Linked DNA regions of Homo sapiens: region 2 is linked to region 1. Evidence: fine-mapped expression QTL. A gene starts in region 1. The other region holds a variant in brackets. All regions are shown on one strand. Distances are from middle to middle. Region 1 holds the start of MME (membrane metalloendopeptidase). Region 2 holds the start of LOC105374171 (a long non-coding RNA gene).

Evidence for each region. PIP is the estimated chance that this variant, and not a neighbour inherited with it, causes the effect.
Region 2: its variant is fine-mapped to the expression of MME in whole blood (TOPMed, PIP above 0.99).

Annotation. Positions count from the first base shown.
Region 1 is chr3:155,068,963-155,085,013 of GRCh38, reverse strand. MME (membrane metalloendopeptidase) reads right to left here and starts at 4,695. Exons shown (of 23, transcript NM_007289.4): 1 at 4,548-4,695; 2 at 687-856. The coding sequence starts at 846.
Region 2 is chr3:154,964,839-154,980,889 of GRCh38, reverse strand. LOC105374171 (a long non-coding RNA gene) reads left to right here and starts at 10,625. Exons shown (of 5, transcript XR_001740568.2): 1 at 10,625-10,787. The variant T/C (reference allele first, on the strand shown) is at 7,050.

The DNA.
Region 1 (16,051 bases):
TTAAATTTCTATTTTTCTTTTGTTCTTTTAAAAACTGCCAATTAAATAAGCAATTTCTTAAAGCAAGAACTAAAAACTGAACATTATATATCATTGTCAGTGGTTAGAAAAAATATAAGAAAATAAAATAAGTAAAATCTAAATTTAAAATTTTGATTATGAAGAAAAATGTGTTATTATATCTTCTCTACCAACGAAGCCCCAGGCCTATTAAATTGAAATAATCAGTTGTTTTTGCTTGGTAATCATTTTTTTAACCATTAAACAATCAATCTTTTTTCATCCTTGTTGTAAAAAACTTCCAAGACTCAAATTAAATTTGTTAAATTCCTGTGAAGCCGTTTAGAATTTCAATGACACAACAAAAGTTGACTAATGACTATTACTAAAGCTGGCCATAAAATTGTGTATATTTTAATCAAATAAAACCATACTTTAGATTCCTCATAAGTAAGCGTGAGCGCACTAAATATACTTGCAATTAATAACTTAGCTCAAACATAAAAGGCACCGTACTTCAAAGTTAATTATTTTGACATATTGATGTTACATTTTATAAATGAATCTCTTTGTCAGTCTTTAAGTGCCTCTATCCTTAACACATTCGTTGGATAGATGGTAAAAGCATGGAGGAAGATTTCCTTCTCTTTTGCACTTATGGATGCACAGGTGTGGGAGTAACTCACCATCGTAGGTTGCATAGAGTGCGATCATTGTCACAGCTATGATGGTGAGGAGCAGGACAAGGACCGAGAGGCTGATCTCCAGTGGAGTCCATCGCTGTTTCTTCTTTGGCTTTGGAGTGTTGATATCAGTTATATCCATCTGACTTTCTGACTTGCCCATCACCTAAAATCTGCAAAAAATGAAAATACTAATAATGAAAAACAAATAAATAAAAAAGAAAATGTCCAAATGCTTAATGTGGCTGGATAAAAGTAAAAGGCTCAGTTATTTTAAAATAGAAATACATTTTTGCTGTTGAGAAGTCAAAATTTTGTTGCTGAATGCAAAGTATATAGAGCCAAATGAATTTGACAGGTCTCAGTCACAACCTTTTGTTTTTTGTTGCTGTTGTTTTGTTTTGTTTTGCTTTGGTATATCACTGAAAATCTCAGCAAAATTAGACAGTAAGACTTGGTTAAATACTCAAGTAGGATTAATTCAGCAGTTTATAAGCAAATAATTGCTGTACCATCATTAAGAAAGTTTTAAACTCACCCTTTTGAACTCTGGACTAACATCAATGGTTAATTTTATATCTTGCTCCAGTGGCTTCCTTTATAAGCTCAAAAACCAGTGACTAATACCTTGAGGTTTTGACTAAGCAATAATTTGAAATATTAATATAGATAAACAGCAAAACGAATGAACACATGAAGTAGTTTATTTTAGTCATAAAAACAACCTTTATTTTTACAGTTCAAAATTACTACTACTACTGATACCAGTATCTATTAACTGGTTAGACAACATTCTGAAAATGGTCACTCACTGTACCAAAAGATACCTGAATATCCAACCTAACCACGCCCAATCCCATTTAAGAGGGGAGTAAGGGGGATAAGTAAACAAAATAGTACAAAAAGTTACCAAGTTGATACTTGTAGTCCTGTATAAAGCAGGGTATGCAAAAACATACCTGTATTCCTAAAATCTTTCACCTCAACTGGAGATGTGTTAAAAACTTTAAACCAAAAAGTGGACACTGCCACAGAATAGAATAAAGAATTAGGAAACTGGGGCACAGAGAAGTCAGGCAACGTGTTCAAGACTACACAACTCGTCAATATTCTTTGTAAAGAACACATTTGGTCACTGTTCAAAATAAAGCTGTATCATCATGCAGTAAAAGCGTACTGTAGAAATTTAGGGGGAAAATTAAGGGGATATAAGCCTAAATATTAAATTTCATCAGGGGCCTAGTGACACTTTATCAGCCAGTCTCCAAGGATTAGAACACACAATTTCCATTTTTCTGCATGACTGTATAAAAGAACATCTTAAACTAGCAGATTAGCTGTTTATAGCTCAATACAAATTGCTCTTAGAATTTGGTCCCAGGATGAAGTGGCGGCTCAGAAATGCTCTTATAGTTAAAGATCTTTGTTGAACACACACAATTCTCTAAGGGTGTGTTTTGTGGAAACTGAGGCATAGGAGAAAGAAGAAACATATTCTACATTTGAAGTATGGTCTGGGAGACCCAGCAGAAAACTAGAAATTAACCTTCCCAGTGAATTATTAATAAGCGAACCACAGCTAGACCTTAAAGTTCTGGATACAAAGTCTTAAACATGCTGTCCCCTTGATTACATGAGGCTATAAGCAAGGACAGACTATCAAATAAAAATATTTTATTACACAATGAAAACCGTGTCTGCTAAATAAAAGTGGAATGTAATGTACCTGAATGTTAAAATGTCTTACTTAATGGTTATGTAAGGCATGCTGGCTTAGTCTCACCACCCCTGGGGTTATGATATGGAATTGCATTGATTGTAGTCCTATTTTAATAGTGTATTGGTTGGGCAAAGGAAAGAGGGGAACAAATTTAATAATACTCTGGACACTTTACAGAGAGGTAAACAATAATAATTCTCCCAGTCTCCCCATGTTTCATGACTGTCCTAAAGAACACCTGAATGTTAAGCACATTTGCTAAAGTATTTCCCTTTCCTGAATATTGTTCCCCCCGCATATGTCAGAAGACAATGTAGAGAAATGTTTTACTGGTATAAAAGGACTTTTTTTTTTCTTAGTTCTTCCTTAGAAATGACAGTCAGTGTCCCTGTAAAGTAAAGCGAAGGGGTGAACCAGGGCAGCCTCAGGGTTAAATTACAGGTGCTCTGTGGAAACTCCATGCCTTGTGGTGTAGTAAAGCTAGTGGATAAGCATTTCTTTCTCCCTGTAAGTTACTTTCCCTTGGCTTCTCCTCCTTACCCTTGAGACTGGGTACTGAAGCAGCTGGGCTCTTAATGGGTCAGCACCCAAGTTTGCAGAAACAGTTACAGAGAAATGAAGACAGTGACAGAAGCTGCATCAAAACAATATAATCTTTGAATCACCTGCAAAGTCTTCCTCCATCTCCCCCTCTTGTAAATGCCCTGTAAATTCTTAAAGGAAGTCTTTTGCTCTTAGTAGCCTTTTTTCAAAAGCATTGAGCAAAAGCAGAAATGATGCAAGTTTAATCTCCTAATTAACTTTGTCGTTCATTTCCAGTTAATTCTGGAAGGTTCACAATTTTTCTTTAAGACATCAGGGGACAGTATCTGGAATCTCACTGTGGAACATATGACTAAACCCCAAATACCTGAATATCCAACTTAACCACACCCAATCCCATAGAGAAGAGTAAGGGGGACAAGTAAACAAAAGAATACAAAAAAAAAAAAAATACCAAGTTGAGGCTTATAGTCCCATATAAAGCAGGGTACGCAAAAACATACCTGTATTCTTAAAATATTTCACTTCAACTGAAGATGTGTTAAATAAAAAGTTTAAACGGAAAAGTGGACACTGCCACAGACGAGAATAGAGAATTAGGAGGTCTAAGATAACAAGAACCTGCAAACTTCAGCTCGACAATATTACCAACAGAATAAATTACTATTTTAAGTGTAAGCTTAATTTCAAAGCAATGTAAAGCAGCAATTCTTATACCAGTTGAGCATAAGCATTACTATATCAGACAGTCAAAGCAGGAAACCTGGATAACTGATTTGTTAAAAAGGAAATCTCATTGACTTACAGACTTAGACTTAGCTAAGCAGTTTTCATCTTCACTGCACATTATAACATTAACTTATATCTGCAGGTTCCTGAAGCTGTGCTATGCAATTACAGTTTGTTCTATGGAAACTGAGGCACAGGAAGAAGGAGAAACAGTTTCCATATTTAAACTGTGTCTGCAGAAGCTGAGGACAGAGGTACTCAGGATAAATCATCTTCTTGTTTCCCAGACATTAATTAGGTGTTTCCCAGCCTGAAATACGGAGTTCTGGACACGAAGTGCCAACCATATTACTCCCCTGGTTAGTGCTGCTCTACAACCAAAGACACAGGGTTAAGTCCAAGAAATTACCAGACAATTTTTTAAAGTGCTAGAACCCACAAAAATGGCAGGGGATGAAGCTACACGCCTTCATACAGTCGATTTGCCGACAAGCACTTTCCAAATGCTGACGCTGCAAGTCAGGTACTAGTTTTCAGTTTAATAAAATTGCCATTTGAATCATATATGGGGGAGGAATCGACTTGATCGAGAAGCTAAAGAGGGATATTTGGTTGCAATTACCCTTATTTTGAAACCAGACAAATAGACTGAAACCAGTTAAGAGGTCTTAAACTTTCATCTACAAAAGGACACACCAGCCCCGCACCGACCAACCCTTGTGAGATTTAAGCATTAATTATATAATAGGAAATCAGGTTAAAAGCAAGATGAAGAGGTGGGATAATGAAAAGATCTTCCGGTTAAGAAAAGTAAAAATAGAAAAGTGAGTTACAAATGAGAAAATCCGACAGAAACCAAAATGAAAACAAACCTTGCTTTTTAAAAAGAAGAAAAAAAAATCAGTGTCTGTACAGCAGAATGGCAAATTCCCAGCCCCCAAATCAGCCCCGGTGCAATCTGGTAGCGCGGATCTCGGTAACAAAACATAACTCCCCAAGGCAGAGGCCGCAGGGAACTATGGAAATGAACCTGAAGAGCCAACCTGACGTGACTTCCAGAGCCCTCCTCCAGGTCACCCTCTGGGCCCCTCTCCCTCCCCTCACTCTTCAGGTCCCAGTAGCGGCTCCTTCCCAGGGCACGCCTCCTCCACGGCCGCAGGGTCCTGGGCGCTCGGATCGCGCTGGACCTTAGCTGCGGACCCTGCTCAGCGCACCTCCCGGCAGCCGCTCCCCTCGGCTGGCTCTGCCCTCCCCGTGCCCGTCCCACGGGCTCCCAGCGCCCTGGGCGCTCGCGCCCTTTGGACCTTTCTCCCTCAGCTCGCTCTCCTGGGACTCACCAGTGGGATTCGGGAGAAGTTGGAGGCTGCTGAGCCGACACATCCCGACCAATGAGCGCACGGGGCCGGGTGGCAGTGGCGGGCTGAGAGCCCAGCCAAGCGCCTCTCAGTCCGTGCATCCGCCCAAGGCGCGCGGGCTCCAGGCTGAGGCCGGACTTGGGGGAGGTTCCGGACCCGCCTCCGCCCGGGCCGTGGGGCGACGAGGCACCTGGGCATCCCTCCGACCCGCACCCACAGAGACTCACCGTGACCCCTCAGCAGATCCCGCGCCAGGAGTTGGGCGGCTGCTCCAGCCTGCTCTCGGTCAAGCTTCGCCACTTGCACATCTCCGCGCCCCGCGCGTCTCGGCGCTCTCACGGCCCACCCCCCCCACCCCCTACCCCGCCTCGCCGCTGCAGGACCAGAGAGAGGAGCAGTTCCCTGGGTGACCTGAAGGTTTCCGCTAGGTCTCCCAAATCCAGTCACTTCATGTGAGGGGGCCGGGGAGACGGGGGGCGGGCGGTGGCAATGAAAATGTCCCATCCTCCCCACCCCCCATCTCACCATTCCCAAAAGGGCTTTGCTAAACATTTTTAGAATTGCTTAGCTTCGGGGCTTTCAAGAAAACAATACACGGGCTCTTCGGGATTCTCTAGTCCTGAGGGGGCTCCATCTCTCCCCTGTGGACCGGAGACTATAATGCTTGCCTCTTCTCACGCTCTTCTTTCGCTCTCTTTCCCGCTCCCTTTCCTCCCTGAATCCAAGCTTCCTTCCTTCTTCATTTAAATGTCCTCTCTCCCTCCCTCCTTCGTTTTCTTTTTTCTTACTCTCCCTCCCCGTTTCCTTCTTTCCTTCCTTGCTCCTGCTTTCTCCACCCCGCTTCCCTCTTTCTTCCCTTTCTTTTCCTTGGTCGAAGTACTCTCATGTCAAGATCTGAACTGAAACTCTCCGCTCCCACCTCCTGACTTCAGGGAATCTTAAAACGTGTGTACATCGGAGGTTGAGGGTGGGGAGTGAGAAAGAGAAAAATAAACTAAAGTGTGTCTGCTCTACCTACTGAAATCAGCCGTAATGCGCCTGGACCCTCACAGTTTAATGCAAGCAAGCAGCGTACCCCTTTCACTCAAGACACAGCGATTCCTCCTCAAAGGGGTAAATACAAACAAGGAAATAAATACTTTAGGCACAAAGGCAGTTTCTTTGTAAAAGCTACCTTTAGCAGCTATAATTGCCAAGGAGCTCAGAGGAACTAAACTTCCTTTTTTTTTTGCTTCCAGTGTACAAGTACCTTTAATACTGATCCCTTTCCTCTTTTGAATCACAGGTAATTACACACACACACACACACACACACACACACACATACACACACATATTCACACTCCACTGCGGAATTCATACTGAAATAAAACTGGGTTTGCAATTATCTGTTTTTAATATCAAAATGATTTGCTGCTTGAGAAGAGTCCCCTTGTGCTAAAAAATTTTCCATCTTTTTCATAGCAGAGAAAGCTGAAAAGCAAGGAGAAAAGGTAGTTCATCCTAATAAGTGGAATACAATGGAGAGACATTTCCCCAAAAAGCTAACCAATCTTTAAATAATTCGATTAATATAGAGGAAAAATGGAGTGTGTAGACCTAACAAGTGCTATTGACGTCTATTTACGCTTTCTCTGTGCATCTTACAGACACTATTTAGTCCTCACAACAATCCCGAAATATTGGTGTTTTCACTCCCACAAATAAGCATGCGGGGCTTGACTAGCGCCCTGGAAAGCATCTCAACTGGAATTTTTTTTTCCTACAGAGTCTCGTGCTGTCGCCCAGGCTGGAGTGCAGTGGTGTGATCTCTGCCTCCTGGGTTCAAGCGATTCTCCTGCCTCAGCCTCCTGAGCAACTGGAAATACAGGCACGCACCACCACACCGAGCTAATTTTGCTTGCGTGTGTGTGTGTGTGTGTGTGTGTGTGTGTGTGTACTTTTACTTTCGGGGTTTCTCCATATTGGCCAGGCTGGTCTCAAACTCCTGGCCTCAAGTGATCTACACACCTCGGTCTCCCAAAGTGCTGGAATTACAGGTGTTAGCAATCATGCCTGGCGGTGAGGACTCTTTTAAAGGAAAAAAAAGGATTTACTTAAAATGTATGACAAAAGAAAAAAAAAATGCCTACTTAGAGTTAATTTTAGACTCTGACTTTCAGCTGATAGTCGACAGTATGGATTGGTAACTGGTTTCCCAGAACAAATATTTTTTTCTTTTTCTCTTTTCTTTCTGTTTTTTGTTGTTGTTGCTGTTGTTCGTTTTTTTTTGTTTAGATGAGGGTCTGACTGTGTTGCCCAGGCTGGTCTCTAACTCTGGGCTCAAGCAATCCTTCAGCCTCAGCCTCTTAAGTAGCTTGGACTACCCACATCTCCCTTACAATATCTTGATTTCATTAAAGTTGATTAGAAACTTAGGGTTTTTGTTGTTGTTGTTTGTTTGTTTGTTTTTAAATCAAGAATGCTAAATCTCCTCCCAGAAGTTTGTGCAAGTTTGAGATAATTTTTTTAAGGGATCTTAAAGAGTCCCCAACTATTTACAGTAAGTAAATTTAGACAACTGAGGCTTACTGAGGTGGTCCAAGATCACTCAGTTTGGCCACTTATAGGAATGGAGGAGAAAGTAGCCCTCCTGGTGGCCATACATAAGTTATTAAGAATGGAATGCATTGGTTCTAGCAGTTTGCAGAATGGATCCTTAAAAACCACTGTGTGTGACACAAATGCTTGATGAATTTTTTTAAGTCCTTTAAAAATGCTATAGTGCATTTTTATATGCACCATTGAGCCAGCAGGCAAGTAAAAGAAAATCTTAGAAGCCAAAAACAAAGAGAGCTGTCAGAGGCATTTGGACCAGAGCAACTCCATCTTGAATAGGGGCCGGGTAAAATAAGGCTGAGACCTGCTGGGCTGAATTCCCAGGAGGTGAGACCTTCTTAGTCATACGATGATGTAGGAGGTCGGTTGGCACAAGGTATAGGTCAGAAAGACTGTGCTGATGAAACAGGATACTGTAAAGAAGCCAGCCAAAACCTACCAAAACCAAGATGGCCATGAAAGTGACCGCTGGTGGTCCTCACTGCTCATTATATGTAAATTTTAATGTATTAGCATGCTAAAAGACACTACCACCAGTGCTATGACAGTTTACAAATGCTATAGCAACATCCAGAAGTTAACCTATATAGTTTAAAAAGGGGAGGGACCCTCAGTTCCAGGAAATCTCTGCCCCTTTCCCTGAAAACTCATGAATAATCTACCCCTTGTTTGGCATATAATGAAGAAATAACTGTAAGTTTACTCAGTCAAGCCGCCTATGCTGCTGCTGTGCCTATAGAGTAGCCATTCTTTATTCCTTTACTTTCCTAATAAACTTGATTTCACTTTATGGATTCATTCTGAATTCTTTCTTGCAAGAGGTCCAAGAACCCTCTTTTGGGGTCTGGATCAAGATGTCTTTCTTGTAATACCGACAAAAAAATCAAGAAGGATATGTGAGTGCTGAAAACAGTAGCTGTCCTGGTGGTATCTATCCATTTCAAGAGGCCTCACTGGACTTAAGCGACCTAGAGCTTTCACTTTAACAGGACTTGCAAGTGCCAAGGGACTTCATACAAAGTGTAGTCCAGGGCAAAGTGAAAATGTGGGCTAACAAAAAATGAAACTCAGCCCCAACTCCGACTCCTCACCCCTACTCTTCCACAAGAAACATAGATATACTTGCTTTTTTCAGTCCTGACTCAGGCTGGTAAACTTACAACAAAAACTTTCTGTAAGAATTCATGATTTGGCCAGACTTCAAATGGATGTAGGAATAGAATTTATACTAATTGTGTAGCCTGAGTATTTCCAAGTTAAAGATCTATGGTAAAGTAGTCCAAGCTAGACTGTTCAAAATAAAAATTGAAAAACTTCCCACCACTGACTGTAACCAAAGGAACTTCTTGAGAATGAATTTAGGAAGCAAAATAATAGTTTATGGAAGATCTGATATGTGAGAAAGAATGATAAGCAAAGAATATAGTAACAACATAAATAAATCTAAGCAAACATTAACAAAAATAAAAGAATGGTGATAAAAAAGATCAACTAAAAAACCAGACAACGGGGTGTGTAAGCTGGGAGAGTTTAATTAGAATTAAAGCACTCTGAAGTCTTTACTCAATCAGGCCTGGTGGTGTGCACCTGTAGTCCCAGCTACTCAGGAGGCTGAGGCAGGAAAATCACTTGAGCCCAAGTTTGAGACCAGCCTGAGCAACATAGTGAGACCCTGGCTAAATAAATAAAATGAAGTCCTTACTTATGTTGTTGGAAAGAAGGATAATGATATTGATTAATTATATACTTTAGACTTTATTAGGTTAATTATGTATGTAAAAAGTACTAATACAACCACAAAAAAGATAAAAATAGAGTGCATAAGGTCAAGTTTTGCAGAAAGAAAAAACAAAATTAAACATAAGTCAATCTAAAGGAGGACAGAAAAATAAAAAGTATTAGAGAAGAACATATAGGAAGTATAACATAAAATGCTAGAAATAAATCAAAATATATTAATTGCAATAAATATAATTGGACCAAATTCTCCAGTTAGAAGACACAGATTGGCATAAAACAAACAAATAAACAAAATTCAGCTGTCTTCTGTTTAAAAGAGACACACTTAAAACATAAGGCTATAGCATAGTTGAAAGTAAAATAGTTCAAAAAATATATCAAACAAATATAAGTGAAGGATTGCTGGTATAGTAAAGTTGTAATAAAACTAAAATTTTACCAAAAAAAGAGATTAATCAATTCAGCAGGCTGATAACATTGATAAAATTCTAAGCTTGATTACATCTAGTATCATAAATTTTAAGTAAATACTACAAAAAATAATATAAGAATTAAAAGGGTAAAATCACCCATGTTAATGGGTGATTTTAATACACCTTTCTCAATATTTGATATGTCAAGTGCACAAATCAGTAAGGATATAGAAGATCTGGATAACAATATTAAAAGATAATCCAATAGAAATATATAGAACATTTCACCCAAGAATTGGAGACTGTATATTTTTTTAAGCACCTATGGAATATTTATAAACATTGATTATATGCCAAACTATTAAATAAGCTACAGTGAATCTCAAAGACTTTTCATAACACATTTTTGGACCTTAACATGATTAAATAAATATAAAACCACATATATATCTAGAAATTGTTAAACAATGCACACAAACACCTTAAAATAACACATAAATTGGCCAGGTGTGGTAACTCATGCCTGTAATCCCAGCACTTTGGGAAGCTGAGGCGGGAGGATCACTTGAGGTCAGGAGTTCGAGACCAGCCTGGCCAACATGGAGAAACCTCCCCTCTGCTAAAAATACAAAAATCTGATGGGTGTCGTGGCACGTGCTTGTAATCCCAGCTACTCAGGAGGCTGAGGTAGGAGAATCGCTTGAATGTGGGAAGCGGAGATTGCAGTGAGCTGAGGTCATGCCACTGCACTCCAGCCTGGGTGACAGAGTGAGACTCTGTCTCAAAAAAAAAAGAAAGAAAGAAAGGAAACACACACACACACATAAATCAAAGAGCAAGAGCAAATCATAACGGAAGTGAAGAAACCTATAACTGAATGCAATAAAAATATTTCTTATCAATATATGTCAATTGAGGTATCTATCAATAGCAGAAAATTTGTAGCCTTAAATAATTTTATTTTGGAGTGAAAAAGCTAAAATTTAATGAGGTGAGCATATAACTTAGAAAGTTAGAAAAAGAAAACAACAAATCCTAAGAAAGTAAACTGAATGCAGTAGTACATAAAAATGACCAGAGATAGTTTTCTTTTACCTTCAAATTAAAATTAAATATGAGTTCAGTAGTAAGTATTGTGTTAGAAGGCCTGGATGGTGTAGTTGGAAAAGAGAGAGAGAGAGAGAGAGGAAAAGGAAGGAGAGATGAAGAGAAGTCAATAGAAAAGAAGAAATAACTAATTAAATATTGGTAAATTATGTAGTATGATCATCAATACTGAAAAACCAAAGTAATCTACAAAATATTACTCATATTTATAAGACAGTAATATGATTGTTGGATAAAAGATCAATATTAAAAAATTAATTGCGTTTTTACAAGAGAAAAACATGAGAAAACACAACCTTAAAAGACCCATCTACAGTCCTATAGATAGATAGACAGATAGGCATTGGTATAAATATATAGATATATCCTTAAAAAAGCATTGTAAAAAAAAAGGCAAGAAAAGAATATGCAACAGAGACTTAAATCATCCTTAAAGCCTAAAACATTTATTATCTGGCTTGATACAGATAATAAATGGCCAGAATTCTACTGAAAAGACAGCCAATAATTGGTTTTGTTCTTTACAAGGACACTTTTTTTTCCTCTTCTGGCAGATTGTACAAATTGATACTCTTTTCTAAAATTAATGTCATTGTGTTTTATTATTACCCACTACTATTGTTTAAAACATTCTATTTACAGCAAATTAATGTGGTGCACAAGGCTTAGTAGACTTCATGCACTGATTAGTGTCTAAATTGATATTTCTATTAGTGGTGTATAAGAAGTCAGGTGAGTAAGACTTGGTTTTATTTGGAGTTTTAGCTGGCATTTACTTATTAATTAATGAGACTGCACATCTCCTGTGCTGTGGTCGTTTCTATTTATTCTTCATTTTAATGTCTGTTTGTTCTTAAAAATGTAAGATCATTTTTAACTTGTAGGCTCGGAAATGGGCCACTGACCTCTATTGGATTTAGCTGACTGGTTGTAGTTTGCAGATCCCTGGCTAGTAGATCCTCCAGAGATTATGTGATTCTATTGGGATATGCACCTTCGGTTGACTTTTCATTGACCAAGCTATTCCACAACTCGGAAAAATTTGCCCTTGTTGGAAACCGGTAGTGATAAAAATGGATTAGTTTAGTAATTTGTAGGAAACATAACAATACAAATGATTCTTGTTTAAAACCATGCAAATGAACTTTTTCCAGCAGAGATCCTATTGATTTCCAAGGAAACGATAACTCTAAACATTACATTTTATAGGCTAATAAAAGTTTTGAGAGGCCAACATAGTTTTTAAAAAACTAAACTTTGGTAAACTTTGGTAAACAATTTTAGAAAACATTTATATTATCCAGAATTTTTAAAGAAACACATGACTTACAGCCCAACAAATTTACCTTTAGGTGCAGTCTCAGAAAAAACCTGCAGATATGTGCAAGATTCTGTAGCAGCATGGTCTATAATAATTTTCAAAAAAGTAGAAACAATACAAAAGTCCATTGATAGGAGAATGGATAGATAACTGTAATACATTCATAAAATAGAATACTGCACAGAATACAAAATAACCAACTGCCCTAAACAAACCAACAAACCAACCAACCAAACAAACAAACCAACTGCAGCTAAACTACACAGAATACAAAATAACCAGTTGCAGCTAAGCAAATGAGAAAAATAATGTTGAATGAAAAAGCAAGAAAACTCTGTGTAGAATATTATAGATACAAAGAAAACAGAAGATGTAATGATTATGTAATCAGGGAATCCACAGTTTAGTGGGTAAGAAAAATGCAAACAAGCATTTACAGTAGATTTGCATGTGATGGAAAAGTGTTTACTCTTTTTGGCATGGTGGAATTTTGTGCAGTGGAGCAATAAAGTCGGAGTGTCCGTTATAATGCCTGTGTTGCATTGATGGGAATGAGGAGGATGGGAAAGGATGGAGGCAAGGAGATCTGTTAAAGGGCTAGGACAGTGATTCTTTTTTTTTTTTTTTTTTTTTTTTTGAGACGGAGTCTCGCTCTGTCGCCCAGGCCGGACTGCGGACTGCAGTGGCGCAATCTCGGCTCACTGCAAGCTCCGCTTCCCGGGTTCATGCCATTCTCCTGCCTCAGCCTCCCCAGTAGCTGGGACTACAGGCGCCCGCCACCGCGCCCGGCTAATTTCTTGTATTTTTAGTAGAGACGGGGTTTCACCTTGTTAGCCAGGATGGTCTCTATCTCCTGACCTCATGATCCACCCGCCTCGGCCTCCCAAAGTGCTGGGATTACAGGCGTGAGCCACCGCGCCCGGCCGACAGTGATTCTTATGAGAGATATTTTAAAAATAAATAAGTGATCTAAGGCAATTGGAGAGATTTTTGAGGTAAAATCCATAGGACTTAGCGACTTTTTCATATTGAAAGTAAAGTAGAAAGAATCCAGAATGACTCCTACAGTATCAGGCAACTGGATAGATCTGTCACTTCATTGAGATAGGGAACATTTGATAGTGGTGGTGGTGGTGAGTTGTGGATAGGATGATGGACATCTTGTTGAAATTGTAGCATTACTGTCATACAATGAGATATTTGCCACTCCTGACAATTTGGTAAAACATCTAAATATTTGTTACATGCCAAATGCAATAATTAATTGTGATGATGGGAGAAATACGACTCAGAAATATTATACCTCCAAATTTCATTCAAGAAAAAATACCCTATAATTACCAAATGATTATTTGAAAACAGTCACTCACTAAGCAGTTTTTCAATTGACTACAGCTGAGTGACTGAAAATTAAATTTCAAAACATAGAATTGGGCCTATTCCCTGGCTAAACTGTTCCATGTGCTGATACGGTCGGGCAGGAAAGTCCCTCCCTAACATGCTGCACGTGCTACGCGTATGAGGATGTGACTAAGCTCAGTTACAGAGATATGCTTATCCCCTCATGTCTCCCAGATGATTATGTGTTTCATCCCAGCAACACACTAAAATTCCTTTACTGGCAATACGCAGAGAAACGGGAAAGGAGGGTAGTTTCACAGCACAACTTGTGTGGATAGTTTGCATTCACAAGCCTGGAACCAATTCTGGCCTGGAGGGAGGGCTGATTTTGAGCCCTTGGTATGCCCATCACCACATACCAAGGAACATGTGCATATGATTCATTCACATTAGACCTCTCTGATGCATTTCCTGTGGACAGCTGTGGCCCTGACTCTGGGGGCGAGAGCAGGGTATTGAATACTACACAGCAGCAGCCACAGGAATAAACCCAAACACCCCAGATTTTTCTCAGGGGGACATCTGCTCAATTTTGGCATGATTAACCTTTAAATCTCTGGTTCTTTCTGACTCTGATGTTTGGCAGAGGTGCGGATTCCAGATAATCAAAACTAGGACAAGCAAGGTGAAGAAATGCGTCTTCTAAGCAACTCCTGAGTGGGAAAGTATATGTCTTAACTTGAAAAAATCATATTCAAAATGTAATCAATTCCCAACTTCTCTTGGATCCTTAATGCTTCCAGGAAAAGTGCCAGGTGAAATAGAAATATCTAAATTTTAGACTTTTATGTTCCATGCTTTATTTATTTATGCTTTATACCGTACCAATCCTTTTGCAAAGATAAAGCTTATCTTGAACCCCATCATTCTTAATCCTTTTCATCAGCTGGTCATTCTTACCACAAGCATTCTTACCAAGTCAGATTATTGCATTTACCTAGATCCTTTAAGTCCAAGCAAAAAGAACACTTTTAAAAACTCATCCTGATCTGTTTATGCAGATGTATGTACATAGTGGCTTCTGGTGTATACTTTCATTATACTGTTTAAAATATCTCAAAGTCAAATCCTAAAGAAACGAACTGCTCCTTGTCACAAGATGCTTTTAATGTAAGAAATCTTTTCAAGTATAGTGATTTAGGATGTTATTTCACAAAAGCTTATTCAATGCACATTAATGCACCATAAATTTTAAAACTAGGCCAGAAAAATTAAAGAAATAAAAGTGTTAAGAGAGCCCATTTGACTAGTGCAATATTGTATATAATTGAAAAATAGCTCCAAAAACATTAAACAATATGATTGTCTTGCTTTTGTCTCAATCACACTAACTATATTCTTATAGGAGAGTTGTTGTCTGTTTGCATCGTCCACCTGTCTTATCTAGTGGTTATTGGTAGAGGCGGCAGTTACATTCCAAAAGGAAAACAATCTCTTCCTGTTCCCTCTGGTCATACCCATTTCCTGTTGCTTCTGGGGCTGGGTAGGGAGGCAGTTCTCAATAAGGTCCTTCTGCTGACGTTAACCAACATCACATGGACAAGGGCAAGGGAGTCACATTCTTGTTGAGTACTAGGATATTAAAATAGCTGAAGGTAATGGAGCCTATTCCTAGTCCATTAATCTGATGGTATTGCTTTTTACTCATTTGAAACCCAGTGAGTTTCTTCCTGCCTAGGAACTCAGGGTGATATTAATTTCTCCAGTCACTATTTAAGTAGGTGTTAATAAAATAAGAAGGGTTCTCCATAAAGTACAATGTTTCTCTTCCTGTAATATCATGAATAAATTGCTAAGGCAAAATTTCACATTATAACAAGGAATGATACGAATAATATTATTTGAAGGTGTCTCAAAGAAAAAGGGCCAGGTTAGTGCTCTTCAATTACTGGGATTTTCATCTTCCTTCCAAGTCATTCACTTGTGAGCTCAGTCATCCTGGGCCTTAACAAACCTCTCTCAACTCTGAGTTGCCACGAGCTGATCAATTCTTTCATCCCTCTCACTGAAAGCATCTTTAATTTTCTCTGTTATTTCTAGCCTGATGACATTTCTTAATCTTTAATACATCTATTTCTTGAACTTTCAGTTCTCTTAGCTTCTACAACATTGTACTGGTCTCTCCCTCCTCTTTGTCCTCCATTTGCCTACTAAATAAAGCATCATTTCTTCTCTTTTCATCTCTCTCTTTCTAGAATTTCTTCCTTGACTGTTTTTATCCATATCATTATTTCAGCTTTGATCTCATGGCAGACAACTCCCAAACCTACAAAAATTAGTCCAACATATTCCCCCCTTTTCCTTTCATTTGTAGAATGCTTCACAAACCCATGCTCTCGTGAAACCTATATACTTTACAGGCTCAGCCTTGTTCCAGTTCATCTAGGCTTGACACATCCCAGTGGCCTTCGATGAGTCCTTTATTATTCCCCAACAAACAA
Region 2 (16,051 bases), 100 kb after region 1:
ACTATATTTTTAACCTAATGTCCTTTCACTTACCCGTGTGTCAACACACCAGAACTTTCATGTTCATGTGCTCCTTTGCCTGTTTCCTTCTCTCCCTGGAGTCCTAGGTATAATGCCTCCTTCTTTGTTTTCTCCATTATCCTCTCCACCCTGACAATATTAGTTTCTCCCTGTAGTTCCTTATAGTATTGTCTTCATTCTGATCATGTACTGTTTCAAGTCAATGCTCTGTGTTTAGTTGAACACATATGTTAATGGCTGTGTCTTTTCATGGTACCTGGAACAAAAGAGATGCTTCATAAAAACATTTCAAGAGAATTAAACTAAAATAAAACTGTAACAGACCCATTTAAAAAGTAAAATAGTCAAAAATATCCCACAAAACATTCTGCTATCATCATCATAATCCAAATAAGGCTATTATCTGTTATTTAAAGTGATTAAAAACTTGATTAAAAACATAGCCTTGGCTGGGCACGGTGGCTCACACCTGTAATCCCAGCACTTTGGGAGGCCAAAGTGGGTGGATCACGAGGTCAGGAGATCGAGATCATTCTGGCTAACAAGGTGAAACCCATCTCTACTAAAAATACAAAACTAAGCTCTGTGTGGGAGTGCATGCCTGTAATCCCAGCTACTCAGGAGGGTGAGTCAGGAGAATCGGTTGAACCTGGGAGGCGGAGGTTGCAGTGAGCTGAGATCGCACCATTGAACTCCAGCCTGGTGACAGATCTAGACTCCTTCTCAAACAAACAAACAAACAAACAGCCTTTACAGGTGATTATGTTGGTATTTAATATTTTCTCTTTTTCCTCTTGAGAAAACTTACTGGGAGACTGGAGTGATGCTCAAATTTCTAGAGGGGTGATAGTAGTAAGTTCTTGATCTGCCTCCAAGGTTGTGGGGTTTGTTGGGTGCAAATGTATTAGATTAAATGAGAAACTGGGCTTTCTATGTGGTTAAAGCCCACACAAGGGGACAAATAGACCCTCCATTCCTTATTTCTCCAAGATGTATTTGCTCTAGAATATTTGGTAGCTGTCATATAGCTTGCTATAAAATGGAAAGGCTCAATCCTTTTTTTGATTATTTAATTCTACATTTGATTGTAATCCCAGCTGCTCAGGAGGCTGAGGCAGGAGAATTGCTTGAACCCAGGAGGCGGAGGCTGTGGTGAGCCGAGGTTGCACCATTGTCCTTCTGCCTGGGCAACAAGAGCGACACTCCATCTCAAAAAAAATAAATAATTAATAATAAAAAAAGTTCTTTAATTAACAGAAACCATTTCTACAATAATTCACTTCCCCTCTCTCTTCGTGCATAAAGAGGATCTTTGTAATCTATGTAATGTTGGCCCTGTTACCATGTGATGTATGCTCTCTGTGCATGGCGGATCTGGGCAAATTCTGCTTTTGTTTTAACCCTTGAAATAACATTTTGTTCCCTTTGATATTTAGAAAAACATAAGCTGATATCACATAACTGATGTTAGATACAAATAACATTGAACTAAAGTGATCATTTAGACTGTATAAAGCATTTTTTGAGAAAATGTTTTTGGTTTTTTTTTTTTTTTTTTTTTTTTTTTTGCAGTTGCAAGATTTAATAGAGTGAAAACAGAGCTCCCATACAAAGGCAGGAGACCCAAAGGGGTTTGCCATTGCTGGCTCAAATGCTTGGGTTTATATCCCGGTCATTGTCCCTCCTGCTGTGCTCTCAGGTGATAGATGATTGGCTATTTCTTTACCTCCTGTTTTTGTCTAATTAGCATTTTAGTGAGCTCTCTGATTGGTTTGGGTGTGAGCTAAGTTGCAAGCCCCGTGTTTAAAGGTGGACACGGTCACCTTCCCAGCTAGGCTTAGGGATTTTTAGTCGGCCTAGGAAATCCAGCTAGTCTTGTCTCTCAGTCCCCGCTCTCAACAGGAAAAACTCAAGTGCAGTTGGGGAGGTTGGCCGACTACCGCTCTAACTGCTTCCTGCTGAACTGGGGCATAGTAGGGGTTGTGCAGTTGAGATTTCCTCAGGAGGGGTGCTTTCGATGTCATTAACATCAGAGCACAGGCTAGCAGGCTGGTCTAGGGGTCTGTGGTAGATCTTAGTCATGGACTACATCTGGGGCTCCATTTGAAGAACTATTTGTAGTTTTACAGCTTCGATTCTGGAAGAGACAAACTTAACAAGGAGGTTAAAGATACAGGGATTGAAATGTATGGCCTGCAGCGCAGGGGATTATTTCTTTGGCACACTTCACAGGCCCTGACTATCTGCTTGATAGTTTTGAAAAGGCCTGGTCTTGTAAATAATGATTTGGCCCTCTGATGGGTGCTATCAATGCCTAAGTGAAAGGCTTGGAGAAGGGTTTTAAGTAATTTCCATTGGTTAGCTGCAGGCAAAAGTATTTTCCCTTCTTCGGTGGCTAGCCATCCTGAGCGAAGGAAACTATGTCCTCGTGAGGTTCCCTATTCTATTTTTCCTGCTGAGTACTGGGGCTTGGTTTCCCAGAAGGGATTACCACATACTAGGGGTCCTTCTATAAGCATTTCTAATGGAGGGTCCTGCCTTGCGGCTCTTTTTACTTCAATATCCGCTTGGCGGTTCCCTTCTATTTCCCTTTCCTTTCCTTTCTGATGACCCCAGCAGTGTAAAACTGCCAACTCTTTAGGTTTCTGTACAGCCAATAATAATCTCCTAATGGCTTCCTGATATTTGATAGGTGTTCCCTTGGAAGTTAGGAATTTCCTTTCTCTCCATATTGCTGAGTGGGCATGGAGGACTAGATAAGCATACTTAGAGTCTGTATACATATTTACCATTAGAGAAAATATGCTTTTTAATGAAGCAAGTTAAAATATACATGTTATGAATTCAACCACACGTCTTTTTGATTTACAGAGAATAATTTGAGGTGTTTCCTGGGAATTTGTACTCATTTATTCATTATTTATAGTGCTAGTTATTGTCTTTTCCAGATACAATTTCTTTCCCAGCAGCACTAGAAACATGTTTTGAATAAATCTTGGCAGAAATAAAGTCAGAAACATTTGAACTTTGTTCAGCCAAAATATAGCTGTATGCTTCATTTGGAAACCAGTGCATAAGAGCAGCTTCATTTTTTTGATATTACTCCTGTGGTTTTATAGTAGTGATTCTTTTTTTCTTTTTTTTTTTTTTTTTGAGACAGAGTCTTACTCTGTCACTGAGGCTGGAGTGCAATGGTGCAATCTTGGCTTACTGTAACCTCCGCCTCCTGGGTTCAAGTGATTCTCCTGCCTCAGCCTCCTGAGTAGCTGTGATTACAGGTGTGTCAACCACCACGCCCTACTAATTTTTTGTATTTTTAGTAGAGACAGGGTTTCACTGTGTTGGCCAGGCTGGTCTCCAACTCCTGACCTCGTGATCTGCCCGTCTTGGCCTCCCAAAGTGCTGGGATTACAGGTATGAGCCAGCGCGCCCGGCCTGATTCTTTTTTTTTTTTTTTTTTTGAGATGGAATCTTGCTCTGTCATCAGGCTGGAGTGCAGTGGCGCAATCTTGACTCGCTGCAACTTCCCCCTCCCGGGTTCAAGCAATTCTCCTGCCTCAGTCTGCCTAGTAGCTGGAATTACTGGCGTGTGCCACCATGCCCAGCTAATTTTTGTATTTTTAGTAGAGACAGGGTTTCATCATGTTGGCCAGGCTGATCTTGAACTCCTGACCTCAGATGATCCACCCACCTCAGCCTCCTGAAGTTCTGGGATTACGGGCATGAGCCGCTGCACCCAGCAGCAATTCTTTAAAACAATGCATACACTTAAATTTGAAGCTTAGCTGGGAGATTTTTGGATATGGTCAAGAAGATATAGGAACAATTTAATGAAGTTTTGTAGGCCAGTTGCTCTTTCATGTTCACAAAACAGTCAAGTGCCACTAATCGCATTTTGACAAACAATGAACCACATATACAACTATGGTCCCATAAGATTATGGTATTTTTACTGTACCTTTCATATGTGTAGATACAATTAGATACACAAATAGTTATCAAATAGTTATCATTGTGTTACAATTGCCTGGAGTATTCAGTATAGTAACATGCTGTATAGGTTTATAGCTAAGGGGCAATATAGCCATATAACCATATAGCCTAGGTGTGTCTTAGGCTATACCATCTAGGTTTGTGTAAGTATACTCTATGATGTTTTTACATCAACAAAATCACCTAATAATACATTTCTCAGAATGTATCCTTGTTCTTAAGTGATTCATGACTATCGTTATTCTTGACTCATCCTACTCTTAAGCCTTTTAACTGAAATACATTTATATTTACTTATTCAAAGTAGAAAGATCTAAGAATTGAATGTTCATTATATAATTATTTCAGAGATTTTTTTTCAAAATAATATTTGAAAATACTATGTATTGAGTCAAAATCTTGTTAAGATAAAAAATAAATGCTGGGTCATCTACTGTAATTATCTCAAGGGTAATTAGTGACATAGCTGAATTTAGAACTTAAATGTGGGAAACTACAGCTCATTTATCCCTGCGCTGTATGATGCTAAAATCAGAAAACCCCTGGAAAGTTACTATCCCCACTAAATTGTCTATATGACGTTGGCCCTGCTAAAAGATGATGAAATGTTCTCTGTGCATGGTGGTTCTGGGCCAATCTGATTAGACACAAGTAACAGCCATCACCCAGTTCTGTTTCAGGAAAAGACCAAGATTGCTTCTTTAAGAAAATATCGTCTTTTAACAATTGTTTAAATAAACAGATTACTTTTCAAGTACACTTCTGATTTACTTTTCATTCAGGTAATCTTAGATATATTTCCAGTTGCTGTGGCATATTAGATAGTTGCTTCTTTCCTAGCTCCATAAATAATTGTTGAATTTGTTGCATGGATGCATTTTATTTTTCTTTGTAGCCTCCCAAGTACCTTACTTGGGCCTTTGCATACGATAGTGGATGGTCGAATTAAGTTGGCATGGGATTCATTCTTTCTCTCTCTTTTCTTCTTTTCCATTTTCCTTTCTTGTTCTTCTCTTTGTCTTTTTACATCTCATTTTTCACCTTCTCATTCCTTATTGGAAATAATAAATCATTTTCCCAAAGCCATTTTGCCAATCACCCTAAAATTTATTTTCTGTAATTTTCCCAGCAGTTTGACAGGTTCAGTACATGTCATGTTGAGCAATTTTTAAGGAAATGTCAGTTATCCCTTATAAAGCTCAGCCTTTTAGAGTTTTGATCCAGGAAATGTATTAGTATTATTCATAGAAACCAGTTTTCATGGCCAATTTTAGCTCATTTGGCTATTCATGCCATCAGGTAAGTAAATATTTCTATTGACCAGGCCAGTCATGTCTGCTCTCCCTCTGTGCATCCAGAGGTCCAGCAAGGAGAATGTAGAAAACGATTTTCTTCTTAGCTTGTAGAGAGATTGGAGTAGGCATTATCCCACATCACATAGCAATGACTAATGACAACTTGAACTGCTGGATACATTCTACTTCCATTCCTAGATAGGTTTAGAGACAGATGACTTACGGAAATCTCACAAAAGGAAAATGGGTTTGTATGTGTATAGACTTATTGTCAAAATACAAAAGGATTCCATAAATTGTTATGGATTGAGTGACTTGAACAAGGATTTAAAAGGCATGTTCACCAGATAGTTTAGAAGAAATATAAACATTTTTGAACTTCACTGTCAATACTGATTGATTTATTGTTTGCAGAGTTTTTTTTGTTGTTGTTGTTAACTAAGGCCTCAAAGACTTTTCAAACAATAATGTTTTATGTGTTCATGGTGCTTTATAGTGTATACATCACATCGCCACTCTCTTGTTTAATTATCATGAAAACCATATAAATAGAGGTGCCATTTTTACATAAATAACATAGAGATATGAGATTGATGTGTTTTACTAAAAATTCCCTGGGAATTTTGACTTTGGTACTATAGGACCTTAAGAATTTTGGAGTCGGCTGGGCATGGTGGCTCACAACTGTAATCTCAGCACTTTGGGAGGCTGAGGCAGGCAGATCACTTCAGGTCAGGAGTTCGAGATCAGCCTGGCCAACATGGTAAACCCCGTCTCTACTAAAAATACAAAAATTAGCCAGGTGTGGTAGCGTGCACTTATAATCCCAGCTACTTGGGTGGCTGAGGCAGGAGAATCACTTGAATCCACGGGGCAGAGGTTGCAGTGAGCCGAGATTGCACCACTGTACTCCAGCCTGGGAGATAGAGCAAGCCTGTCTCCAAAAAATAAAAATAAAAATAAAAATTTGGAGTCACTGTGAGATATACATACACAATATACCTACTTTATATATATATATGTGTATATATATATGTTTGTGTGTGTATATATATATATTCTCACACATTTATCATCAAATAGGTATATTTGAGGTTTGTTCTCCCCAGCCAGGTAAGGTAATATAGTGGGAAAAGCATGGATTTGGAGTCTTAAATCCTGATTCTATCAGCAGTATTGTCTTGCATTAGTTACTAATCTCCCTGCATCTCATTTTCTCATCTAATAATAATAACAATTATTCTACTCTTAGGAGTACATTATGTAATGTAGATAATGTGCCTGAGATGGAATAACCATCAGAAGAGTCCATTTCCTACCTGGATTATTTTGTACAAATGCATCTAGATGATCGTTCCCAATCTCTTCATTAATGAATGGCACCTTTTGAGAGACAACCAGTTAATGTTGCTCTCTGTGGCCTTTGGGAAAGAGAAAAGTAACTGGTTTATGCCAGAATTAAACCTGGAACTCTAACCTAATGAGCAAACAGCAAAGAAGGCAGATCAATTGCAGACGTGAGGTGATTCATCATTTAGACCCTGGAGGTATGCCTTGGGACTCAACTATCTCCCTCATATCTCTGAGACACCAGTGTGAGCTTGGACCCCTCTAAACATTCAGATCTATTCCTATTCCAGCATACTTGTGTCTCAATTCACTCAGTGCAAAGGCGAGAAACTTAAGCTGTAAACAATTTGAACAACTATGGAATACACTAGATTCTATCTTGAGTTTTGT[T/C]TTGCTGATTAAAAACTCATACTGAAAGAGAAGTTTGATTGTAGAAAGAACTGACATGAATTCTTTGGAAGAAAGTTTAATAGAAAAAGTTCTCTCTCTAATTTATTGATGGCCGTGAGGAATTGTGGGTGAGATTTTAGCCATCAGTGGACATATAACAGATATTACTGAGTGATGAGATAGTGAGTGATTGTTTAAAATCTTTACTTCTTTGTGCTTCTCCATATTTCTTTCAATAAAAAACATGATGAGGGGGTACAATCAATCAATGAATCAATCAGTACATATGAGAAAGAAAGACTATTTTGTGATTACTGTTGGGATAGAATAAAACACATTCCCTGAATTCTTAGGAATTGCATTTAATGGAGAGCATTTTTGTCCTATCTATGTTCTGAGCCTTTTTGCTCAGAAGTTAGATTTTCTTTTCCTGAAGCAGCTCTTTCTGCCCATCCATGGATCTCATCAGCACAATCTGCAGGGTTTGTATGCAGCTGGCTTTCCCTGTTTTTACTTCTGAATGGGTGGCTTATTTCTTTCCAGCATTTTTTTTTTCTGATTGACCCAAAATGGGTGCAGATGTGGTAAGCACATGCTGAAAGTTGTTGAATATTATTTTCACCCTTATGAAAGGCCTGACATAAGCAGTTTCAGATTGTGTGAATTCTTAATTCTGCAGTGGGCTTCCAACAGTGGTTCTGTTGCCAGTGATAACAAAAACCTGGGAGAGACCTTGGGCGGTAAACCACAGACTTAGTTCCCAAGAATTGAAGACCTCATATGTTCCTTGGTATGTGATCTTGTGAAATGCAGAGGTATAAAATGAAGTTTTGACTTTCAAAATTGGTCCTAGGGACTAAATTATGATGTAAGGTATTTTCCCTATATGTTTTAGTGCATACTTGTAGAAATTGGCTTCTGTTATTTTCTTGTTTACAACAAAGATCATCTTTTTGTGCCATTTCTGAATTTTGAATTTTCTTTTGGTTCTTTCTAATACCTTTTTGTTAGTGGCATGTTGTATTGAAGAGCCACTAAACTGGGAGTAAAAAAAATCTGCCTGTTTCTCTCTTGTTTTGTGAAACAAGTATATATTGTAAATATATAATTGCTGAAAAATAAGGATAATATTATATTCTACCTAACTTTTGTACACAATAGCTATTCACATTGCTCAAAAGTTGTTTTTCAATACTTACGGAAAACATTTAATTAAACAGAGTTAGCTTGACTGTATGTATTTTTTACTTTGGGGTCTAAAACTGTTCATTCCAGAGGTTCTAGGAAGATGAATTGTTTTTTTAACTGGGGAAATTAAAGACTTACTTCTTGATAGAGGATCATCAAGGAATGGATTACATTTGTATATTTCCTTTTATTTCTGGTAAATAAAAAATTATAGGAGGCCATTGTTTTGAGCTACACTCCTACACTAGACCCCAACAGATCAGACTAAAAATCAAAACGGAGTCGCTCACGCTGTGGTTCCACATTACCAAACCAAAACTGAGTGGTTATCTAACCTTTGGAGAAGCCCAAAAGGAGAGATAACAGCTTAATTTCCCAAACAGACTGGTTTCAATCTACAGGATAATGAAGTTCCCTCTGCCTTTAATCTTTAAAGGGAAGGTAACCTGAAGTAACCTGATATTAAGCAATCAGTTATTTCTCTATTGTTTCCCTGTTCCTGCCTTACAAGGGAAATAGCTTTGAAATGACCAGTCACATTTTGTTCTACATTTCTGCTTTCTTCAGTTCTTCTCCGTCTATAAAACCAAACCCTTCCACTCAGCTTATTGGAACACTTATTCTATTTTATGGAATGAAGTGTTGCCCAATTCTAAAAATGCAATAAAGCCAATTGAGATCTTTAAGATAAATTTGTTGTAGCTTTGTCTTTTGGCAGATCTAAGCATACAAGGGCTAGATTAATGCACTCATTCATTTCCTTATTTAACAAAATTGTATTGAGTGCTTTCCACATACTAGGTACTTTGCCAGGGCCCAGGGGATACAGAGGTCAATTACAAAAACAGTCCCCGTCATATTGTCTGCAGACTAGTGTAGAGATGGACAAGTTAGCTGTTGCAGTAAGAGTGCATTAGTGGAACACCTGAACCTAGATTTGGGGGTCAGGAAAGGAATTCTGAGAGGAAAGTAGAACTGAGAAATAAATAGAAATTATTCAAGCCTGTGTGTGTTGAGAAAGAGAAAGTGGCAGTGTGTGCATGTGTTTGTACTTTAAGGAAGAGAAAGAGACAAGCACAGGGAGAGAGAGAACGTGAGTACACACTAATAGCTTAAGTCTACATTTGGATTGTATTAAAATAACACCAAAAGCTGATGGAAACTCATGCCGCGATCGTCATTAGGCTCTTACAAGCTTGCTGGCCAGTTTCAAAGTTTGCTTTCTTGGAACACATAAAGATAATTTAATAAATTTTCCGTTCGGGGTAGGAGAAAGTTAATAGACTACTAAAGGGCCTAATTTACCTCCCCGGATTAGATTAATCAGACTTAAAATAGGGCATCTAAGATGCAGATGCCATGTTTAAAAGTATACTCTGTGCAATTCCAGAAGAACAAAGTTTTCCAGAAAGCATTAGTGTTTGGTCAATGTAATAAGACTAATTTCTCAAGAACCTCACACCTAGGTTTCAGGTAAAAGGAAAAAGAAAAAGTAATGATGATTCTGTTTTTCCTTCTCAGGCACATTTTTCAATGCATTAGACTGTTTGGTTTGGATGGTGCAAGGATCAAATCTATGTTGTAAGAGGAAAGCCAGATGATCTTTCAAAATGCATCTAAAATTTCTTCAGCCAACTCAAAATGAATGAGTCATGTTGACGTTATACTAGGGAGCCATGTCTTAAGCTAAATTCCTAATCCTTACATGATACTGTTTTTAATCCTTTGGCCTATTTCCCGAACTATTCAGTTGGACTCTTGTGCAGTGTCATTTCTCACACATCTCAGAGCCCAAGTGGACTTCTTGATGGAGTTGGCTTTACATGCCGTGATGCCTCCTTAGCATTTTGTAGAAAGAAATAAGATCCAATCCAGTTTCAAAACACCCTGGTTTGGGAGGATTCTGAAGTTCCCTAAGACCTTTAAAATGCTTTAATTTCAATTCAAGGATGGCAGCATGAATTAATTATTCAAAAGACAAAGGATGCCTCTAAGTGATCCTTCAAACTTGGGATTTATTAATTCATTCAAGAGATATTTACTGAATACTTATTATGCACCAAGCACTCTTCTATGTATTGCAGTGTGGCTGAAATCCTAGACATACCCAGTGCTGAGTCAGAATTTCAATATAATAAGACACACTCCACTGATCAATATATATTAATAAAAAATAAATAAAAATAAAAAATTCCATCAGTTGAGTGTTTCAAATGTTTGGGACAATCAAAATCTTGGCTTTGCCACTCAGTAGCTATGTGACCTTCAACTTCTTTTCTCTGAGCTGCCGTTGTCACATTTCTTAATTGTGTCCAACAACTACTTTCATGAGAGGAATGGAAGAGATTGGCTGTAACAAGTCAAATGCAAGGGGAGCTGCTTTGAGAGCCCTCAACTTGCACTGTTCACCTGTCAGGTTTTATCTTTCAGGGGTCAGCCAAGCCAGTGGGAAGCCTACGACATTCCCCTGGGTCACTTAGTGAACTCCTACTCTTTCATCAGGCCTCACTTGAACATGACTTCCTCCAGAAGCCTTCCCAGACATCTTTGGTGAGTATATGTGCCTTATATGCATTTCTAGGGTATCCTATCTATCTGTATCATAGCATTTGCCACAATTTAATGTGATGGATGTCTGTTCTGTCTTCTATCTTTCTACGAGAGTCTATGCTTCAAAAGGGCAGAGAATGAATGTGTTCTGCTATCTATTTTAGTTCCAGTATTTAGAAGGGTCTATTTGTTATTGTTGAATGAATTAATGAATGTGTATCTGTATCCCACAAGCTAAATAGAAATTTATGAATGAGATAAAGGTGCATATTGGTCTATATTGTTTGCCTTGCACTTGTATACATGTAATTTCAGTTAAGCCTCAAAACCACTCTAAGTGGTGGAAGGACAGACATTTTGATGCTTGTGTGCTGATGAAAATGAGGTTCAGAGGGTAAAAGGATTTTTCTGTGTTTGCAGAGCTAGAAAGTCAGAAGAGTAGAATTGGAACCCAGCTCAGTCTGATGCCACATCCTTTGTTGTTTCCATTAAATCAGAGAATTTCTTAGTGCTGAGAAACTATTCTGGAACTTACAACAAAGGCAAGTGGGAAGGGAGTCGCCTGGAATTTGATCTCTGTAGATGCCTTTTTCATTTAGTTTATTTTTCATTTTTATCTGTTGCTTTGCTCTTATCAAATACAGATAAATAGCAGCTGCTACTGGTGCTGTTGATTGCGATTTCTGTTTGAAAATGGAATCTTGAGCATCTGTTCTCTCCTTTTATATTTTACTGTGAGAGAAAATCTATTTTTTTCAAAAGGTAATTCATACACATGGTAAAAATTTAAACAATATAAAAACCTATTTTTAAAAAACATATACTCTTGAGTATTTCTGTGTACTTTGCTTTCATCACTAATACATCTTTAAGTTTATTCCATATTGGTACGCAAAATACATATTTCATTATTCTAATGATTACATATTACTTAATTCAATTTGTAATACATAAATGGCAGTTTACTAATATAACCATATAAAAAGTAATCTAACAGAAGTTACAATGTTTTATCAGGTGAGCACTACACTGTTATTTTAATACTTGCCAGTTAAATCAAGCAATGTGACTGCTAAAAGTAGAATTCCCATACAGTAGGAAAGCACAATTTATTTTTATAATAAAAGCAATAAATGTGTTTAAAAATTTCAATCCTTTATTGTGAATCACTTGTGGCCAAGTATCACTTAGAATAAGAGTTCTAGAACTAAAAGTGTCTTTAGAGGCCTAGTACAGTTTGTTATAAGGAACACTGTGTGTGTGTGTGTGTTTGTGTGTTTGCATGTGTGTAAGACTATTTAGAAAAGTAAGCTTATATAAAGGTACAATAATGTCTTGTTTATTGAGTATCTACTTTGAGTCTGGCATATCATCAACATTTTATATCATTATCTTATTGCTTACAATCTTAGGGATAGGTACTATTATCATTTTTATTTTACAGGTAGGAAACAGAAATGCAAACTCTTTCTGATTCCAAATCCTATATTTATAACCACAGCACATTATTTGGTCTATTAGATGTAAAACAACTAAATTCCAGAAATAGTCTCCGAGCCCACCTACTTAGCCTCAATCTTCAATCTTGGAGGTCCCTGAAGGGGCTCCTCTAACCTTTAAGGTTTTTCACATGTTTTTACAATTGTTTCAGAGCCCATGCCAGGGTTAATAATCAGCCACTACTTACTGAAAACTGTACCAGTTTTGAAAATATTAAAGTACTTCTGAACCATTTAGTAAATAACCCTCTATGACCCAGCTACTCTCTAAGACTGACTGGTTGTTGTGGATTGAATGGTATCCCCAAATTTTGTATGTTAAAATTCCATTCCCCAAGACCTCAGAATGTGAACATATTTGGAGATAGGTCTTAAAGAGGTTAAAATGAGGCCGTTAGGGACATATCCTAATCCAATATGACTGATATCCTTATAAGAAGAGGAAGAGACACCAGGGATGTGTACCAACAGAGGAAGGGTCGTAAGAGGATACAGTCAGAAGGCAGCTGTCTGCAAGCCGAGGAGGGAGTCCTGAGGGGAGATCAAACCTGTGGACACCTTGGTCTTGGACTTCTAACCTCCAGAACTGTGAGAAAATAAATTTCTGTTGTTTAAGCCACCCAGTCTGCAGTATTTGATTATGGCATCCCTAGGAGACTGATACACTTGTTTCTCTCATAATCTGGAAACTAAAGAGCTGGTTCCTGGCACACACCAGAGGCCTCCCCAGGGGAACTTGCTCTGGTTGGTTACTCCTTGTGACTGTGGACATTTTGCTTGTTTTCAGCAATCTATGCTGTAATGAATGTTCTTGTACATATGTCTATATATTCATCTGGGGATATATTTTAATATACATTTCTAGAAATAAAATTGCTAGGTGGGTTGACTTAGAAAATAACTTCATGTATTTTAACATTCTTCATAAAATACCTTTAAAAATTCATCTGGGCAAAGCTACATTTGTGAAAGACACTTGTGTATTTGTTGTGCTCATTTTGGTTTCTTCTTGATGCTAATAGCTACCTTGCCTTTCAAGGGAGAAAAAGTTTCAAAGTAGAAAATATTTCAAATGCGTTAAGTAGAGGTTTGAAACATCCCATAACCCGCTAAATGAAGCCCAAAGCCACAAAGGGCAGAAAGGTCTAGGCAGCTCTGATAATGACTTTAAGTGGGAGCAAGGCTGCAGAGCACCATTGCTGAGAATAAAGGCTTAACATAATGCCTTTCTCCTGGGCATCCTTTGCCCACAAAACTTACCCATAATGACAGTTTACATTATGTTCATTCCTTCAGGAATAATTACTGTGCCTCCATGTGGAAGTTTTCTCATTCCAAAGAAGCAGGATCATCCATCATATTAATGTGATATGGTTTTGCCAGATGCCAGATGAATTAGCAAATGGTATTCAACATACACATTCATCAATTCTGACTAGTGCATAAATAAAATCATAAGGATATATCTTTGGAAAATACTGGTGGGCATTGTCACAATATTTTAAAAATTGTCCAGACAGGTATATTTTTCTCTTAGTCACTTGAAACATTTAGAATTAAATTAACTTTTGTCAAAAGATGGTTCTTCTTTAATATAAATTGAAAAAGGCCAGAGGCAGAAATTCTCCAAATTGAGGATATATCAGAATCACTGAGGGTATGTTAAAACACGGATTACTGAGGCCAGGTGCTGTGGCTCACACCTGGAATCCTAGCACTTTGGAAGGCCCAGGTCAGGAGTTCGAGACCAGCATGACCAACATGGCGAAACCCCGTCTCTACTAAAAATACAAAAATTAGCCACGTGCGGTGGCGGGCGCCTGTAGTCCCAGCTACTGGGGAGGTGGAGGCAGGAGAATCACTTGAACCCGGTGGGCGGAGGTTGCAGTGAGTTAAGATTGTGCCACTGCATTCCAGCCAGGATGACAGAGACAGACTCTGTCTAAAAAACAAACAAACAAACAAACAAACAAACAAACAAAAAAACCAAAAAAACCAAACACAGATTCACAGATTACTGGTCCTTACTCCAAAATTTTAGACTGAGTAGGTCTGGAATGGGCACATGGTTCTGCATTTTTAATAAGTTTTCAGTTGATGCCAATTGATGCTTCTAGTCTGGAGAGCACACTTTGAGGATTGCTGGTCTTGGAAGGTCTTTTACAAGATTTAAGTCACATACCAATCACTTAGGTATCTTTTGAAGATACAGATTCAGATCCAGTAGGTCCTGGGTGGTGCTCAAGATTCTGCTTTTTTTTTTTTGAAACAGAGTCTTGCTCTGTTGTCCAGGCTGGAGTACAGTGGCATGATCATGGCTCACTGTTACCTTGAACTCCTGGGCTCAAGGGAAGATTCTGCACTTTGACAATCTCCTGAGAGATGCTGCTGGTCCATGGGCCACACTTTGAGTATCAAGTGTGTTTCAATGTATAGTATATTTAGTTGGTTGACAATTTAGGGGTTGTCTGAGTAAAAGATAAAGGTAATTTTTAAAATATGTATGACTTTCCCCACTTTCTTGCAGTTTCTCTATTGAATGTTGAATGCCTTGAAACTGATTACCAGGCCTTTTAATGTAACTTAGCTCATGGTCCTCTCACCCAGAAAATGTGACCAATTTGACCCATACTTTCCACCTCCAAATTTTGCTGAGGCCCAGTTTGATATGTTTTCAATTACATGCTCAGAAATAGAAACTGGACACAACACATCTTTGCTCATTGAGACCATGTATATGCAGAGTAAATAAGTAATTTACCTAGGACACAAAACCCAGGGCAGGTATGCTACTTGCCCTCTTGTTGCTTAGGAGAGGCAACATGGTGGGAGTGGATTCTAAAGACTGTGTAAGGGAAGAAAGGAGATAACCTTGATGATCTGGTGATGATAACAGTTTTCTAGAAATAGGGTGTGGCCTAGGTAGAGGTTTAGAGTCCAGAGTGGGGGCAATTACCCATACACAGTAGCTAACTTCTCTAGCAGACTTTTGAGGTAAGAAAGTAGAAGTCTTTTCCATTTCATGAGGCCAAGTGTCATAGGAGGACTTCAGACTTCTGTCATCAGTTTCCAGCATCCATTCCTCTGTCCTATCACTTCACCTACCAGTGTATATCAGTTCAAACTGGGGTCATTAGGCTCCAAAGGATTGAATCACAGAACCATAGAATCTCAGAGTTGAGAAGAACCTTCTGGCTTTTTCTCCTCTGAAACTGTGATTCAGCCCTAATGAAACTCAAAGTAGATACGTTCATAATCCATCTCTAAGATAATATCTCCTAGATATCAGAACAAATTCAAAATATGAGGATCCTTTGAGGAGTATTAAGACACCTCAAAACTGAACTAAAATTTGGAATCAATAAAATCAAATAGTGTTGGAAAGGATGAGAAGTTTTGTGGGACACTTCACTCAACTATGGAAGAGTATGCAAACTAATTTGTTCTCCTATGAATATTGCAAATGTTAGCCCCAGATTTTCTAAGTTGGCATTAGATTCAAACATTCTATGTATTGTACACAGATCTGCTTAGATTGCATGTCACAATATTTGGTTTGGTAAATATAATCAATATAACTAAAGAGTTCTTCCCAAGGGCAGCAACCCTTTTTCCCTAGAGAGTCTCGGTCCCCCGGTGATATGACAGGGCTGTGATAGATTGTCTATCCAGCTCTCCTGGCTTTGGCCTCTGCACTAAACTGCCCATTCTCTTTGAGGACCTCAAGCTTTAGAGTTGAATACTTGGCAACCTTTCTGAGCCTCA